2 separate regions of the Homo sapiens genome follow, and region 1 is linked to region 2. Evidence: fine-mapped QTL for protein levels in blood plasma. A gene starts in region 2. The other region holds a variant in brackets. All regions are shown on one strand. Distances are between the middles of the regions. Region 1 overlaps SLAMF7 (SLAM family member 7). Region 2 holds the start of SLAMF7 (SLAM family member 7).

Region 1 (8,393 bases), 9.8 kb before region 2:
CTCTTTATTGGGATGGGTTCTGGCACAGCCTTAAAACCTAGACTTTTCTTTTGCAGCACAAGTGCATAAATGAAGCCTGGCTGGAGGTCCTTGTCCTTGGGCCATGCACACTTCTGTGTCTCCATTATAGTATCTGCCAAACATGGTCAGCTACCCTGATTCTTCATCTTTGTGAACTTTGACCTTCAAGTCCTGTGGATCCACACCTGGCCCTCTGGGAATCTGTGGTCAGGCCTGCTACAACTGCTCATGAAAGTAGTTCATTCATTTGGAGCCAATTTCATGAGGGCAGACAGCATGTCTGACCAATTAGTGTAAGCTCAGCATAGTGCTGGGCACATAGTTTATAGAGCCAATTAATACATCCATTTTTGTCAGGTGCATCTGCTTCTGCTGGACTTGTCTGTCTGTTTTGGTCTTCTTGCCCTCCTGGTAGCAAGACTCTTGGTATAATCCTGACATCCAAGCCCTGGGATGGAATGAAACTCCAGACACTGACCTGGAGCCATCATTAATACAACAGGCTGTCATTAATATGTGTGACCTTGCATTTACATTTTTATAGGAATACTTCTAAGCACTTTTTTTATGGTTTGCTGACATTCACAATCCCATTTTTGGGATGAAGTGATTAAACCTTCTGGGTTTGAGGAGATTTCTCAGCAGTGGATGGAATTATGAACTCTTAAATCTAAAGAAGCATCAGAGATAATTTATCCTGGAAAAAAGTCAACGTTCTTCATTCTTCCTTGATGTTTCTAGTCAAATCAGTGAATTCTTCTGATTGTTTTCTTTGGGCCGAGAATTGTTTTTTTTTTGAGCAGAGACTTAGGGGAGTGCACTGCTGTCTAGATAACATTCTCATAGGCAAATAGCCTTGGTGTGTCTGGCATCGTGAGCAGTGAGTGGGGATTTTCCATCTGAAGACAGACAAAAAGAAAGTAGAGTGAGGGAGGTGAGCAGGGCTCTGGATCGTCCATGGAGACCCTGACATCCAGGAAACTTTATTTCCAAGGTTACCCAACCCAAATCGGCTGGCATGCTGGCTCCCACTGTTTGATTTTAATCACCCCTAGCTTAGAGAAACTATTCTGTAAGTTTAACGCATATTTATCTTGCTGAATGCTTAATGAACTGAACTTTCCTTGTTCAGTTGTAATAATTCACTAAACCAACCTTTTCTATTACTAAGCAAACTGCTTTAATGATTCTTATCTTTTTGGATCTGTTTGGGAGAGGAAGAAAAAGGAGACAGAAAGATACCATTACTGCTGCCAACCGTACTCTGTGAAGGAATAAGCCTTAAAGCTACTGCATTAGTAGTTTAACTGAGGGGAGGGTGCAAAGCAGATGTAACATAGCTGGACCATGGGAGAAAAGTAGAGATCTCTCCCTCCTGCAGTTTCCTGGTGTCTCAGGAGAAAGCTGGACTCTCCTCTCAGCTATTCCTCTCTTCATTCCATGCACAATCTAAGCCATGGTCTTTTTCCTTGTCTGCAACTTCAGTCAGAAGGCTTTTGATTTTCTTTATTATTCCGATCTAGAACCTCTGTCCTACTCTATTTGTTCCAGATTACCCAATTCGATTCCTAAAACACAATTCTCTTCCATCCCCCATGTTCTTGTATAACCCTAAGCAAAGGGAATGGGGAACTACTAGGGTACTTTTTAATTCTAGAGAGTATGAGATACCTGGGTCCAAGAAATTTTGACCTAAACATGAAGCAGGAAAAGAAATGGAACCATTAAGATGAAGTTAAGCTCTAAAGCTTCTTACCTTTTTCGGTATTTCCACAGTGGAGTAAACCGTATTTGCTGGATCTTCCTTTAGGATTGTTCTCTTTTAAAAACAAACAACAAACAAAAGAAATCATCACCCACCTCCTGAATCACATAGACAAGGCCAGAGAGACATTCAGAATCCAGAGAGGGGAAAGCAGAGATGGGAGGAGATGTGAGAGGAAAAGGAGGGTTCTGGAACAGGGAAGGGAGGTAGGAAGTTCTCTTGTTGGTGACTGCTATTATAATAAATTTTGATAACTTTTTTCAGGAAGCCATTACATTATTTTTAAACTGTACTGTGTTAAAATGAATTTCAAAAATATTATATATATATGTGTGTGTATATATATATATATATATATATATATATATATATATATAGAGAGAGAGAGAGAGAGAGAGAGAGAGAGAGAGAGAGAGAGAGAGATCTCTAGAGAAGTCTTCTGATACCATGATTCAAACATCCTGTCAAAGTCACACTCTTCTACCCACTGCCTTATGCAAAAGGAATCTGGCCTTTTGTGTGGCCGTTATGAACTGTGGAGGGGAGCAGGTGATTTCACAGACCACAGCATGAGCATTGTGAGTCAGAACCAGGTGCTCCAGAGACCACCAGCTTCTTCTGCACAGAAGAGAATCCATGAAGACTTGGAGGAGGCACAGGTGCATTGAGTTTTAAGTCTATATATCCTCACTCCCCTCTTCATTCCCATGTTGTCCAAACCCATGGAAAAACCTCACAAGGAGAGCCTCAGAGACAGGATCAGTTCTCAGGAAAGATGAGAAGGGACTCACATTAGTGTGAGGGATTGTGTCGTACTCTGTGTTCTCTCCAGAATGGGGGCATATGTTAGGAGTTTCCCGACAAATGTCCACTCTCTTCTTCTCTTCAATGTACTCTAAAAGCAAGTTGGGAGAGAATCAAAGCCACCTCTCCAACCACTCACCACTTCCACTGGCCCACCATTTCTCCTGGATGACCCACTTAGGGTGACCAACCAGCCGAGTTTCCTTGTAATGGAAGGGTTTTCAGGATAGAGGACTTTCAGTGTTAAAACTGGGAAAATCTAAACAAATCAGGATGAATTGGCCACCCCCAACATTTCACTTCCTGATCTCTCCATCAAGGTGGTCAAAGTGGGAAGTAGAGAAAGTCAAAGACACTTTCAGAGGGGCTTCCAGGAGGGAAGGGAGATTTCAAAGTCTGCAAGTCATACCCAACTGATGTTAGGTCCCTCCCCATCACCCACATGGACAGTGGGAGCCCAGAAGACCAATCAGCAGGGTTTAGGAACACAGGATGGGGTGCAACTGGAGAGAGACAGGGAAAGGCTTCCCCAGGAGCCATGTGTCTAGTGGGCAGTAAAGCGAGGTCTTGGGTTGATCCTGTGGAAAGGGTGTGGGTGGTTTGTGGGCTCTGACAGGGATAGGAAGGATTGACTAGAGGATGCTGGTCTGTGGGGACCTCAGAGTTGGAGGCCATCACCTCCCAGGTCAGGGGAGCAGAGTCAGCAGTGTGGGGCCTGTATCAACAGAAGAGCCACATCAGGATGTCCCTCTGGGAGAAGGAGAGAAGTGAGCCCTGGAAAGGGAACTGGGAGAACCGTGTCCTTGGGAAAGACCTCCAGCACTTTCTCTACTCCAGAACTAAGGAGCACAGGCTGACTGTATGCTTCTTGAGGGCAGAGACTGTGGCTTCTTCATCTCTGCATCTTCAACACCTCATGCCAAGTCTGGCACACAGCTCTATATGTGCTTGTTGAATCAGTGAAGGAGAAAAACATGAATGTGGGTGAGGACAAAAATAGTACACGCTCTACCTTCTTGTCTCTCTCTCTTCAGAAACCAAAGAAATAGCCCCAGTACAAAGAGACTGAGCAGGAGGGGCACCAACAGGAGACACAGGAGGACCATGGAGGAATCTGGGTCATCAGCAGCACCTTCAGAGAATGGGTGGAG[G/A]CACAGGGAAGGGAGAAAAGTCAGCTCAGGAAAACGACCCAGGTCTTGGAGCACCTGCCACCTTCCTCCCAGCCTGGTGACCACCCAGCGGCCTCCAGTTTCCATACAGTGTCTGTTCCCATGGGGGCTAGGAGCTGAAGAAGGTGTAGGACCTGGGCAGAGTCTCCTGTGGAGAGGGGAGAGGCAGTCACCTTCACAGAGCTTCCTGGCAAGGATGGGGCTTGAGAAGTTTCTGCTGACAGGGTTCCTGGCAACGCAGATGAAGGTCATATCACTTTCTCCCCATCTCCAGGAGATGGGGAGGATGGACCCATTATGGGACTCATTGGCTGCTTGCCCCAGGGCCTTCCAGGTATAAATCACATCCTCTTCCCCATGTTCCATGCAGCATGTCAGATTGGTCACACAGGTGCCATTCTTATTGCTCTGCAGACCCATGGTGACTTTAGGCTTTGACAGGTGCTCTGTGAGAGGAAGGAAAACCAGAGGTGGAAACTCTGCCTATAGCTCTCCATTCTCTGAATTATCCTTGGATACCTTGGACCTGAATCTCCCTGGGAGCTCCAGACTGGAGAGAAAGCAGTAATTCAGAGCAGAATCCTCATTCGTATCTGGAAAAGAGAACTACCTAGGTCTGCTTTACCATAGCTATATAATAATAATAACAATAACAACAATAGAAATAATAGAAATAATAATGCAATAAGAATATAACTGTCATTTACTAAGCATAGCCACATGGCAAGCACTGTGATAACGCATGTTAGATGTCCGCTAATATTATCTGTTCTAGAGGTTCCCTAGTCTCTGTCCTCAGGCTTCCCTTTACTCTCTATGAGAGTTCACTTTACTCTCTAGGAGAAAATTGTGTTGGAGTAGCCCTTCTGGCCCCCTTCTCTACTCTGTGCTCACTCCCCTGCCTCAGAGAATGAGTAGTTGGTTCATTGGTGAGATGGTAAGAGTCTGACATTCATCATTTACCTTTCTCTACTCATGGGTTTGAGACGTTAAAGGTTGCAGTTAAAATGTGTTTTGCCCTTTTTCTTCCTCCCCTGACTAGTTAGCCTGCAGAATACATATCTTCTGTTCCCTTCAACCATGTCTATATGGAAGACACACCTGGATCAGGTGCAGTGCCTACCTCCTACAAGCAAGTCTGGAGGCCCATCCCCTAAGGTTCCTGATACTGTGGCTCAGTGAGTGAAGCAGCTATTCTTCTTGAAGAAGTTTGAGTCATTGTTTCATAATTTTAACTTCCCTGGATGAGTGCCAAGGTCTAGAATTGAAAGGAAGCATTTCTCCTGTCTAGATTTACCAGAAATATGCTGATATTTTAATCCCCTCCTTCTTGCATCTATTTATCAATTGGTTGTAATCTGTAGAGAAAGAGATGTGATCGATATTTTGCCCAAAAATCTTCCTAAGGTAGGCATTTCTTTCCTCCCCACTACAGATATGGAAACTAAGACTTGAAGAAATTAAATAACTCGGCTAAGGTCATGTGACTAAATAAAGAAGCCAGCATTTGACCTTGATCTATGCGATGGCCACTGCACATATCAGCCATCCACTGCACCACGCTGCTTCTTACAACATCTCTGAGTAGGCAGGGACCTCAGGGGTCAGCTACATCTATTTCATTCATGCAGAAGTCCCCTCTCCCACATTCTTGCCAAGTGTTTATTCAGCCTCTGCTTAAACATCTCTCATGTCAAGGAGCTCACCACCTCACCAAGGCAGCCATCCACCATTGGAACTGATTTTGCTCACCGTAGACATGCAGCACGTACTCCTGGGTGGAGGGCTGCTGGAGTGATGAGCTGTATATCCCCACATAGTAGATCCCTGAGTCATTCTTCTTCAGTTTGCTGAGCTTCAGGGAGTAGCCTCCATCTGGGAAGTCTACTCTCTCCCTATTACGATTTTGGGTCACTATGATAGTGCCCCCTTCTGGCTGTATGGTGACAAGAGGGGTTGTGTTGAAGGTCCAGACAATAGAGTCAACTTGCTTTACTTTGGACTTCAGGGGGAAAGTCACGGCCCCACCAACGGAACCGACCAGCTCTTTCACGGGTCCAGAGGCTGCTGACCCTATAAACACAGAGAACCATAAAATAAGCCTGATTCCCTGTCCTTGTCACCAATTACTCACCCCCTTTGGGTCCTGGAGAGATCTGAGAAACCCACTCAGTCCAACACAACAACCTCCTGGAAAAGCCTTTGGAACCTCATATAGAGGTCCCTCACATGTTACCCTATTATGTAAGTGCTCACATGGAAGCATTATATTAGAAATTTATGTATCACAACAATCTTAGTTCACTCCCAGAGAGTATGACTTATAAAAAATCATCACTGATTATGTGGTTGTAGGTGAAAAACAGTTAAGAATGTCTGCTGAAGAAACTTCCAGAAGTGGCCAGCTGAGCATTACCAGTAAACAGATGTGGGGAGTAAGTCATCTTATTCTTACCTATTAAACTTGAGAGACAGACTCTGGGAATAACACAGAGCAGTGAGAGAATTTAGTTTGGGACTAGCAGTTTAAAAGCATAAATTATAATCTTGATTAACACTTTTGTTTTTGAGACAGAGTCTCACTCTGTTGCCCAGGCGGGATTGCAGTGGCACGATCTCAGCTCACTACAACCTCCACGTCCTGGGTTCAAGTGATTGTCTTGCCTCAGAGTGATTGTCTTTCTTCAGCCTCCTGAGTAGCTGGGAGTCCAGGTGTGTGCCATCTTACCTAGCTAATTTTTGTGTTTTTAGTAGAGGTGGGGTTTTCACCATGTTGGCCAGGCTGATCTTGAACTCCTGACCTCAAGTGATCTGCCCGCCTCTGCCTCCCAAAGTGCTGGATTGCAGGCATGAGCCACCACACCCAGCCTTGTTTAACTCTTAAAACAACTTTTTGAAGAAACATTCTTTATATCCCTATCTTACGGATCAGGAATGTGAGGCACAGTGGGGGTAAATGACTTACTCAAGCCACCTAGTAAGAGGCAGAGTACACACCAAAACCCACAGGGTCGAGACCTTGAAGGGCATATTTTATAGATGAGAAAACTAAATAGTAGAAATGATAAGAACTTATTCAAGGCTGATAGAAATACAAAAACTAAGACTAAATCCTTAAAGGTGAGGCAGGTTAGGTAGTCAAGGAAGTAACAGTGTTCTCAGGAGGCAGTAACTCTGGTGACCCTACAGTCAATACAATAAGCCTCAGCATTCACATTGTAATTGAGCTCATTTAAGCAAAGCTATCTTCAGTGAGGACTTTCCGCTGTAGAGAGCATGCGGATTTTGATTTTACTTGTTCTCAAACTGACCCTTTGCTCATTATAATAGTAAAAAACACACCCATGGGTGGAGATTTAAGATGCTAATGAGACACGAGATTTATGAAGAAGCATGTATAGCTACTGTGCACGTCCACCCAGAGGACCACCAAGAACATGGTTACTAGTAACACCTCTTCCCACCCTCTTATGAATAATCATGTAAGACTCCCATAAAGGGGGTCTCCCCAGTGCCAGTCTTTGCTGTCTCATCCTTATGGGCAGCCCACCCTGAATTTTCCTTCTCTCAGAATGTACTGTCTTTTCTGCACTTAACTGTCAAAATATTCTTATTCTTTTGCAATCAATTACCCTATGCTGTATTTCCTTTGCTGTGTATCTCTCATATAAATTCTTTTAAACTAAGTAGACAAGAACTGAGGTCTCACATCAGCTGTCAACAAAGGTGTTCTCCTTAAAAGTACAAAACCCAAAGTTATTTCCCCTTCTGCCTCTTAACATAAAGTGTCAGGGTGAAATTTTTAAATGGAATTTTTATTAATTCAGTCATGAAAAGCACAAATGAAAGAAGCAAAGCCAACAAAACAGCCAAGCTATAGGATCCTGACAGTTCTAATGATGCTACTGCAAGGCTACATGGTGACTTTTGTGGTTCCTGTGTACTTTTGACCTTGTTGGTCCTTCTTCCATAAGAAATATTAAAAATCATATTTCATGACTGTGTTGGTATAAAATGAATGTGATCCGGGCTGGATTCATTATATATTCATTGTTATTGTTATTGCTATATTCATTTCTCTTCTGATTTTAAAAGAAATTAAAATTAAAACTATCGTGGGCCTTATGTACAGTGTCTCCTGTGTGTAATTGGCCCTGTGAGACTGACCAAGCATCCAGGCTCTGTTTCATTTCACAGCCTGCTCTCTTAGACACAATCTTTTCTTCTACTCCAGTACTGATGTAACTCATGCCTTTTCTAGTAAAAGGACAAATTCCTATACAGACATATCCAGATATCAAAAATTGCTTCATTAGAGATTTATTTCTTTGGTCCCTGTTAAAATCAAATATCTTGGCAAGGGTTTCCAAATTATAAGAGTTGTCATGTATTAAATGTTTATTCTGCACCAAACGTTTATTGTAAAGAGTATGCCTAACACTCAAAGCAATCCTGCAAATTAGGCATTTTGACCCTTTTACACAAGGATCAGCAACCTATAACCCATAGGCTAAATCTGGTCCACTGCCTGTTTTTGTAAATACAATTGTACTGGAACACAGCCAGGCTCTTTCATTTACATATTGTCTATGGATCCTTTTTCACTACAAAGGCTGAGTTAAATAATTGTGACC
Region 2 (8,393 bases):
GTGTGACCCTATAGAGTTTTACCATATCTAAGCAGGTCACACTTGTCAGATTCAGTCATTCCTTCTTTTAACAAGAATTTATTTAGTTCTCATTGTTTAGGAGCTGAGGGTATAACTGGGGAGCAAGACAGTCATAATTCTGGCACTTACGGAGTTGGTAGATAGTCATTAAATAAATAACTACATGTGTTATGGAAAGGGAAGATGCTGGAATTGGTGGCTTATGCCTGTAATCCCAGCACTTTGGGAGGCTGAAGCAGGAGGATCACTTGAGGTCAGGAGTTTGAGACCAGGCTGGGCAACATAGCCAGACCTTGTCTTTACAAAAAATGAAAAAATTAGTTGGGCGTGGTGGCATTCACCTGTGGTCCCAGATACTCGAGAGGCTGAGGTGGGAGGATTCCTTGAACCCAGAAGGTGGAGGCTGCAGTGAGCCGTGATCGTGCCACTGCACTCCACCCTGGATGACAGAGTGAGACCCTGGAGACAGAGTGGCTACCAACCTCTACCCACAAGACTCGAGAGGATTGGGTCCCATGATATTCATCCACTCTCCTCAGGTGCCAACCTTCTACCTGAGTCAGTGCAGTGAAGGTTGTAACCTGCCTCTTTTACATCCATTTTACCCCTTCCTCATTCCGTACAAGCCAAATGGTTTGGGCTACCCAGTTCAGGTGGTAGCCCTTCTCATGTACAGTAATTAGTTCAGGGGTGTCACATGACATGGGTTGACTGCGTAAGGCCAGGATGACAATGTATTGCTGTGGAAAGATATGCAGCTGGGACTGCCACTCACATGTGGCCACCACACAAACATCCCGGCCTCCTCCCTCCCCTGATCCTCAGCTCACTTTCTACCTCACACTCTTGTTTGTGCTTTATCCTCCTCTCTGTTCATGTAAATCTTATTCAAACCCTGTATCTAATTCAAAGCTCTTCCCTGAGGAAGCCTCCAACTCTTCCTCTCACACATCCCCTGAAAATTTACCACTAATTTCACTTCATTGACACTTTAAATTCTCCAGAAAGAAATATCCTCCCTTGGTGGTCGCTGCATATATCATTTTGCTGTGGATTAGCCAATGATTGGTCCACAGGATTAGAGGCCAGATCACCCAATGATGGGGTCACCAAGTCCTGCCCAGAGAGGGGTAGAGGTCGCTTCTCCTCCTCCAGCATGTGGCAGAGGGAGAAAGGGCTCTGGCCTAACTGGGAGTCAGGGTCCATTCTGGGTCCATTCTGCCGCCTCCGTAGTCATAACTCCAGCAGCAAACACCTGGTGTCACTCTGTGGTTTGTAAGCCAGATCAGTGGGCATCCTCTCTCCTGATCCTTAGAACAGCCCCGTGAGATACAGCCTAAGCCCTGCTTTATAAATTGGGATACTGGAGTTTTGAGAAGTGGGGTGACTTTCCTAAAGCCCCAATGAAGAAATGTTGGAAGAGGGAAGAGGAGTTAGTTCCTCTGCCTCAGTGGTCTGTGTTGTTTCCAATATTGCTTCACCACTTACCACTTCGAGTTTTGGTTTCTGAACCCTCATACGAGAAATAAATAACAACATTTAGTTTCCAGGCATTTGGGGAAGATGAAGTGTGAATACAGATTTGAAAGCATTTTGAGAAGTACAGAGTAGCCTAACGAGAAGGTGGGATGCGGGTGACAAGGTCAGGAAATGAGAGCATGAGAGTCAGGCCTTGAGGAGGCTTCCCATCTTTTGGTTTTATTTCTGCACAGATAGCTAAAAATGAGAAACAGAGATATCCCAAAACACCTTTGGATGGCTTCTCAGCAAAGTAAGCCAGAAAGTTAAGACGGCCATGAGCATTCCCCACTACATCCCCCGCCTGCCTTTGAAGGTGGAGGGAGCTGGGGCAGGAGACCCTTTGTCTTTTGCCCCAGCCAAGACTCAGATGTCTTTGCATCAGGAGGAGTCAGCTGTGAGATTTCCTCTGTAACAGGAAGGGATAACAGGTCCTGCCCTTTGTCACCTTCCTTTCCTCTTGGTTGTCACCTCCTCCCCTGTCCTGTCCCCTAGAGTCTCAAGAGTTGAGTGGAGGGAAGGAGCCCGATTATGAGGAAGATACATTATCAGTGCAGCCAGAACCAAGGGATGGTGATAAAGCAGGAAGACTTTGGGGGAGGGGAGAGTGGAAAAGCCTGCCTCCTGCTTGCCAACCCCGTCCCCAAGCACTTCTCTGAACACTTGGTGCCTCTGTCCAAATGTAGCAGTGTGTTGTGGCACTCTCCTCATGAAAACCATGAACCAGAGCATCTCAGAGCTTGGAGGAGTCTTAGGGATTACTTAGTCCAATCCCATTTCACAGATAAGAAGGCTGATATTCAGAAGGTTATGGTGATGTTTCCCAAACCAGTGGAAGGCCAGGATTAGGAGCCAAGGCTCCTAAGGCAGGATTTCACAGACTGTGCCCCATGGCGCCACCTTTGGAGGCTGTGGCAGTGCCTCAGTGTATTTCTTGGGAGCTCAGGAGGAGGTTTAAGGGGTGAGCGTAGGATAGGAGGCTATGGGACTTGCTTCCGTTAGGCTTCAACTCTATACATTGGAGTCATTTATTTGTTTTTTTCTGTGTAAAATTTCATTCCATAAAAGGAAACCATGGATTTAAAAAAAAAGGCAAAAAAAACCCAAAGTGGTTTGAAATCTATTGCACTTTACTCAAGTCCCCCTTAACGAATGTACTCACGAAAGAGCAGTGTAATTCAATGCCACACAAGGCAGCCACAGACAGAGGCTTGAAAGTTTCCCGCTTCACCACACACCTTTCCCATCACTCTAGCCCTAACCGACCACATTCACATTTAGGTTGCTCACCACTCTGCTCCTCACTCATCTCCTGCCCCCTCTTCCTTGTTTCTTCTGGTTCTTTTCAACACTCTCCCAATTCCCCTCACCCACTTTTTTGTTTTCTTTTTATTGATTGTCTCCTTGACACTACTGTATCATCAAATCATTGGCAGATTACTGTGCCCATTTTTCAGATGAGAATACTGAGGCCATGAGAACTGCTTCATGGACCCTCTGAGTTTAGCCAGGGTGGCCCCCTGTTGGTACACCCATATCCCAGAAACAGAGCTACCCGTTCTTCTCGGGCCTTTCCAGTTTCTACCTCAGATTTATGTACCTGGAGAGGGAAGAAACCCCAACTGGTACTCCCTGAGGAAGATTCAGCTCAAATGCACATGTAGTGAGCATCTCTTTGGTGCCAGGTCCAGTGATAGACGGCTTGTTATGATTAAAAGAGCACTAGCTTTCTAGCTTTCTAAACTCAATCTCTGGCTACCTTATAAATGCTGTGTTATCTTGCCCAAGAAGCGTGATCTCTCTGCTGAGCCTAAGTTTCCTCAACTGTAAAACAGGGATAATGATATCTGTCTTACAGACTCATGAGGAGGTGGTATGAAAAACACCTGCGATGTAGTAACTTAATAAATGGTGATTATTTTAATAATTATTTTGCATTTGATATGTCATTTAAAATGTCACAATAATTCTGCAACTTAGATTTCATTCTCTGTTACACACCTGAGAAGAGCAAGGCTCAGAAGGGAAGAGTAATTTGCCTACAATAATACAGCTACTAAGTCAAACCAAGGATGCGCTTGTCCAGTGCCAGGATTTGTTCCACTGCCCTGCCCACTGGAAGTTCCAGGACAATCTCTGTCTCCTTTCAGCCTCAGGAGGTACACTACACAGGCTGCCTCTGGAGGAGGGCAGAGGGGGACCTGCATGGCAGTTTTTCATACTTGTGCTCTTTCGCTGACTGATTTCAGATGGACACCTGTAGCTTTCAAAGTCTCTATAATTTTCCCCAACCCCTCCACCTTATCTCCCTCAAGTTCTATTTCTGCTCATCATTTCCGTTCAGGGAGTTTTTTTTTTGTTTTTTTTTTTTAAAGTGAGGGCCTATTCCAGAACCACCTGGTTAGACCCAGGTACCTCTCAAAAATACAAACTTCTGATGAATTCAAAGTGGGTAAGAGTCTGCTGATGCTGACCACTTAGCGATGCAGGGGAAAATATTGGGGGCACCAGCTGCCTGCGTGGTCTTGGGCAGATCACTCCAGGCAGGCTCAGATACACATAATGAAGCAGTTATGTGAAGTCCTTATAGGGGGACCTCATGGTAGTACTCCATGAGATTGATGACAGAAGAGATATTTCTCACTTATAGGGCTCCTGATCCTTTCTGAGAGCCCTTAGGATAGAAAAATCTTCAAAGACTAGAATACCAGTGACAGGTGGAGAACTGTCCTCTGTCCTCCATGGGATTAAACATAAAGTGCCTATGGTATGAGTTGGTTCTCTAAGTAGAGACTGATTACATTGCTTGAGTAAGGAAAGAAAATTCAAGTGATTCTTTCCATTTATATTACTGTTATGCATAACCAATTTTATAAATACATTTATAAGTAAATAAATACATACCTGTATAGTATCATCTTGTTCTTAAAGTTGCCCTCAAAAGGAGAGAAGGCTAGAAGATAAAGTTTCTGAGGCCCAGGAAAACTTTAACATTCCTTATCTAACTCATGGCAGAACCTGGATTAGAAAAATGGTCTCTGATACCCAGCACCACTTCTTTCAGCTCCTTCATCCCTGGGACAGTCAACAGGGGAGTCAGTTCCCAGAGCCATTTTTCCCCCTCTCTCTAGTCTCTTCCTGACCTGAGAATCAGAGATCAGAGATTGATAAAAAGCAAATGTTAGATGAGAACACAGAGCCTCCCGAGTTGAGCCAGAGGCCCAGAGTGGAACAAGAAACCTGGAACTATTCAGGATGGGGTAGACAGGAGAGTGGAAGAGAATCCGGCCGGACTCACCTGTGAGCTGCCAAAGGATATAGATGAGGGTGAGGCATGTTGGGGAACCAGCCATATTGCTCTCTGGAAGTCAGCCACTGAAATGAAGCCACTTCCCTCTTAGGTATTACTCAGACCTCTTCCCCAGCTGATATTTAAAGAAGCAGGAGGGGTCACGCCGCAGACATGTGAGATTGAGTAATTGCTAAATTATTTTCAGAGTGAATAGAGCATTTTACCTTGCCACCAGCAATCTATGAGAGATCTATTTGCTCCCCATCTTCATCAGCATTTGGTATATTCCCATTTTATATTTTAGCTGTTTTAATAGGTGCTGTAGTGATACCTCATTGTGGCTTTAATTTGCATTTCCCTAAAGCCTAATAATGTTGAACATCTTTTCATGTGCTTATTTGCCATCTATATATCCATATCCTCCTTGGTGAAATGTCTATTTATGTCTTTTGTCCATTTTATAATCAGATTCTTTATTTTTTTTACTGTTGAGCTTTGACAATTCCTTATATGTTCCAAGTATAAGAGTCATTTGTCAGATATGTGGTTTACAAATATTTTCTCTTGGTCTGTAGCCTGTCTTTTCATCTTCTTAACGGGGTCTTTGGCAGAGCAAAAATTTTAATTTTGATGAAATTCAACTTATCAGTTTTTTTTCTACCCACACTAGGGTCCAAAGGTTTTCTCCTGAAAGTTTTATAGTTTTATGTTTTACATTTAAATGTATGATCCTGTTTTAATGTAAGGTGTGAAGTTTAGGTTGAGATTCACCTAAATATATTGTCTATATTCATTGAGAACCATATCAGGTAATATGGTTGACAGTTTTTTTTTGCTTTCGACACTTGAAAAGTGTCATGACACTCCTCCCCTCCATGGTTTCCAGTGAGAAATCAGCCATCATTTAAATTGTTTTCCCTATAGGTAATGTGTCATTTTTCTCTAGCTGTTTTAAAAGTTTTTTGTTTGCCTTTGGTTTTCAGAAGTATGATTACAATGTGCGTGTTTTTTTTTCTTCTGCCTGTGGGTGTTCAATTGTTCTACTACCATGTGATGGAAAAGATGATCTTTCCTACATTGAATTACTTTTGTATCTTTATCAAAAATCAGCACTTATACTTGTGTGGGTATATTCTGGAGCTATCTATTCTATTTAACTGACTTACATAATGTAATTATTTATATATCAGAGCTTAAGTTTGCCATGTTATTATTTTCTCTTTGTTCTTCTGGGCTTTTGTTTGTTTATTTTGTTCCTCTGTTTCACTTTCCTGGCCATCCTGTGTGTTACTGGAATATTTTTTATAATTCCATTTTGATTTATCTATAATGTATCTTTTTGAAGAGTTTTTTTACTGGTTGCTGTACATATTGCATTTTACATACATAACTTTTGATCTACCTATCAGTGTTGACATTTTACCAGTTGAACTAGGTATAGAAAACTTACCTATATTAGGTTTCTTTATTAGTCTATCTTTATACTTGTCTTAAATATATTGTCTATATTCATTGAGAACCATATCGGTAAGATTATAAGTTTTGCTTCAATTGTTGAACATAATTCAGAACACTCAAGAGGAGAAGGACAATCCATTACATTTACCCATATTTTAACTCTTTTCATTGTTATTTCTTTATTTCTAATGTTTCAAGTTTCCTTCTTTTTATTTTTTTTTGGACGAAGTCTTGCTCTGTCATACAGGCTGGAGTGTAGTGGCATGATCTTGGCTCACTGCAATCTCCGCCTCCTGGGTTCAAGCGATTCTCCTGCCTCAGCCTCCTGAGTAGCTGGGACTACAGGCTCATGCCACCATGCCCACCTACTTTTTGTACTTTTAGTAGAGATCAGGTTTCGCCATGTTGGCCAGGCTAGTCTCAAACTCCTGACCTCAGGTGATCCACCAACTTTGGCCTCCCAAAGTGCTGGGATTACAGGTATGAGCCACCACACCCAGCCTTCAAGTTTTCTTCTTTAATCATTTCTTTCTGTTTCAAGATATTCTTTAGGAATTCTTTTATGATAAGCCTGCTGATAACAAATTATCTTAGTTTTCCTTCACCTGAGAATGTCTTGATTTAACCCTCATTCCTGGGTATAAAATTCTAGGTTGACAGTTTTTTTTCTTTCAACACTTGAAAAGTGTCATGACACTCCTCCCCTCCATGGTTTCCAGTGAGAAATCAGCCGTCATTTAAGTTGTTTTCCCTGTAGGTAATGTGTCATTTTTCTCTAGCTGTTTTAAAAGTTTTTTGTTTGTCTTTAGTTTTCAGAAGTGTGATTATAATGTGTCTTGGTGTGAATTTCTTTGGGTTTCTCTTATTTGTGATTCATTGAGTCTCTTGAATCTGTAGGTTTTTACCTTTTGCTAAGTTTGGGGAAATTTCATTATTTTTTGAATACTTTTTTTTCAGCCTCACATTCTCGCTTCTCTCCTAAAATTCTGATGACATGAATGTTATAAATCTTTTGTTTTTCTCCCACAGGGCTCTGAGGCTCCATTTTTTTTTTTTTTTTTTTTTTTTTTTGGCCTATTTTCACTCTGTTTTCAGATTGGGTATTTTCTATTGTTTATCTTCAAGTACACTGATTCTTTCCTTTTTCATCTCCATTTTGCAATTTTTTATTTTTTTATTTTTTCTGAGACAGAGTCTCACTCTGTTGCCCAGGCTGGAGTGCACGATCTCAGCTCACTGCAACCTCTGTCTCCTGGGCTCAAGCGATTCTCCTGCCTCAGCCTCCTAAGTAGCTGGGATTACTGGCACCCGCCACCACACCTGGCTAATTTTTATATTTTGGTAGCGACAGAGTTTTGCCATGTTGGCCAGGCTGGTCTTGTACTCTTGACCTCAGGTGATCCGCCCACCTTGGCCTCCCCAAGTGCTGGGATTGCCAGTATGAGCCACTGGCCCTGGCCTCCATTTTGCTATTAAGCTCATTAAACTCATTCAATTAGTTTTACCTTTCAGTCATTGTATTATTCAATTCTAAAATTTCCCTTTGGTTCTTCTTTATATCTTCTACTCTTTTTTTAAAGACTTTCTAGTTTTTTTGTTTATTTGTTTTAAATGTGTTCATAGCTGCTAGTTGAAGCATTTTTACTATGGTTTCTTTAAAATCCTTGTAAGATAATTCTAACGTCTGTGTTGTCTTGGTTTTGGTGTCTGTTGATTGCCTTTTGTTCATTCAAGTCAAGATTGTCCTGGTTCTTGTTATGATGAGTGATTTTTGACACAGTGATGATAAGGTAGGGGACCACATTACTGCTGAGCAGTGGTAAAAATCCAGACCCTCCATTTGGCCTTTTCTGACACCACCCAAAGCAAGAATTGGGAGGAGTGCCTCATTGCTTCAGGGAGGGAGTGCATGTTCAGTCTTCCTACTTAGCCTCTTCTGATGCCACCCCAGTGGGGAGTGGGGAGTGGGGAGGGATGATTCCTTACTGCCAAGGGGTGGGGTGGGGGGTTTAAATATAGGTTTTCCACTTGGCCTTTGCTGTTGGCGGGGGGGTGGTGTCCCATATTTCCACATGATGTTTGGCTAGAATATGGTGATTATTGT

What was found. PIP is the posterior inclusion probability: the model's chance that the variant is causal. Protein levels are from the aptamer-based SomaScan assay of Sun 2018.
Region 1: its variant is fine-mapped to the plasma level of the SLAMF7 protein (Sun 2018, PIP 0.95).

Annotation. Positions count from the first base shown.
Region 1 is chr1:160,745,633-160,754,025 of GRCh38, reverse strand. It overlaps SLAMF7 (SLAM family member 7), which reads right to left. Exons shown (of 7, transcript NM_021181.5): 2 at 5,512-5,832; 3 at 3,933-4,205; 4 at 3,603-3,722; 5 at 2,578-2,681; 6 at 1,778-1,840; 7 at 1-920. The coding sequence ends at 849. Among named protein-coding and RNA genes, the nearest start is that of SLAMF7, 11 kb to the right of the region's middle. RefSeq lists a silencer at 2,204-2,263. The variant G/A (reference allele first, on the strand shown) is at 3,742.
Region 2 is chr1:160,735,801-160,744,193 of GRCh38, reverse strand. SLAMF7 (SLAM family member 7) reads right to left here and starts at 4,947. Exons shown (of 7, transcript NM_021181.5): 1 at 4,838-4,947. The coding sequence starts at 4,892. It overlaps LOC124904440 (a long non-coding RNA gene), which reads left to right and starts at 5,035. Exons shown (of 2, transcript XR_007066687.1): 1 at 5,035-5,111. RefSeq lists an enhancer at 1,786-1,865.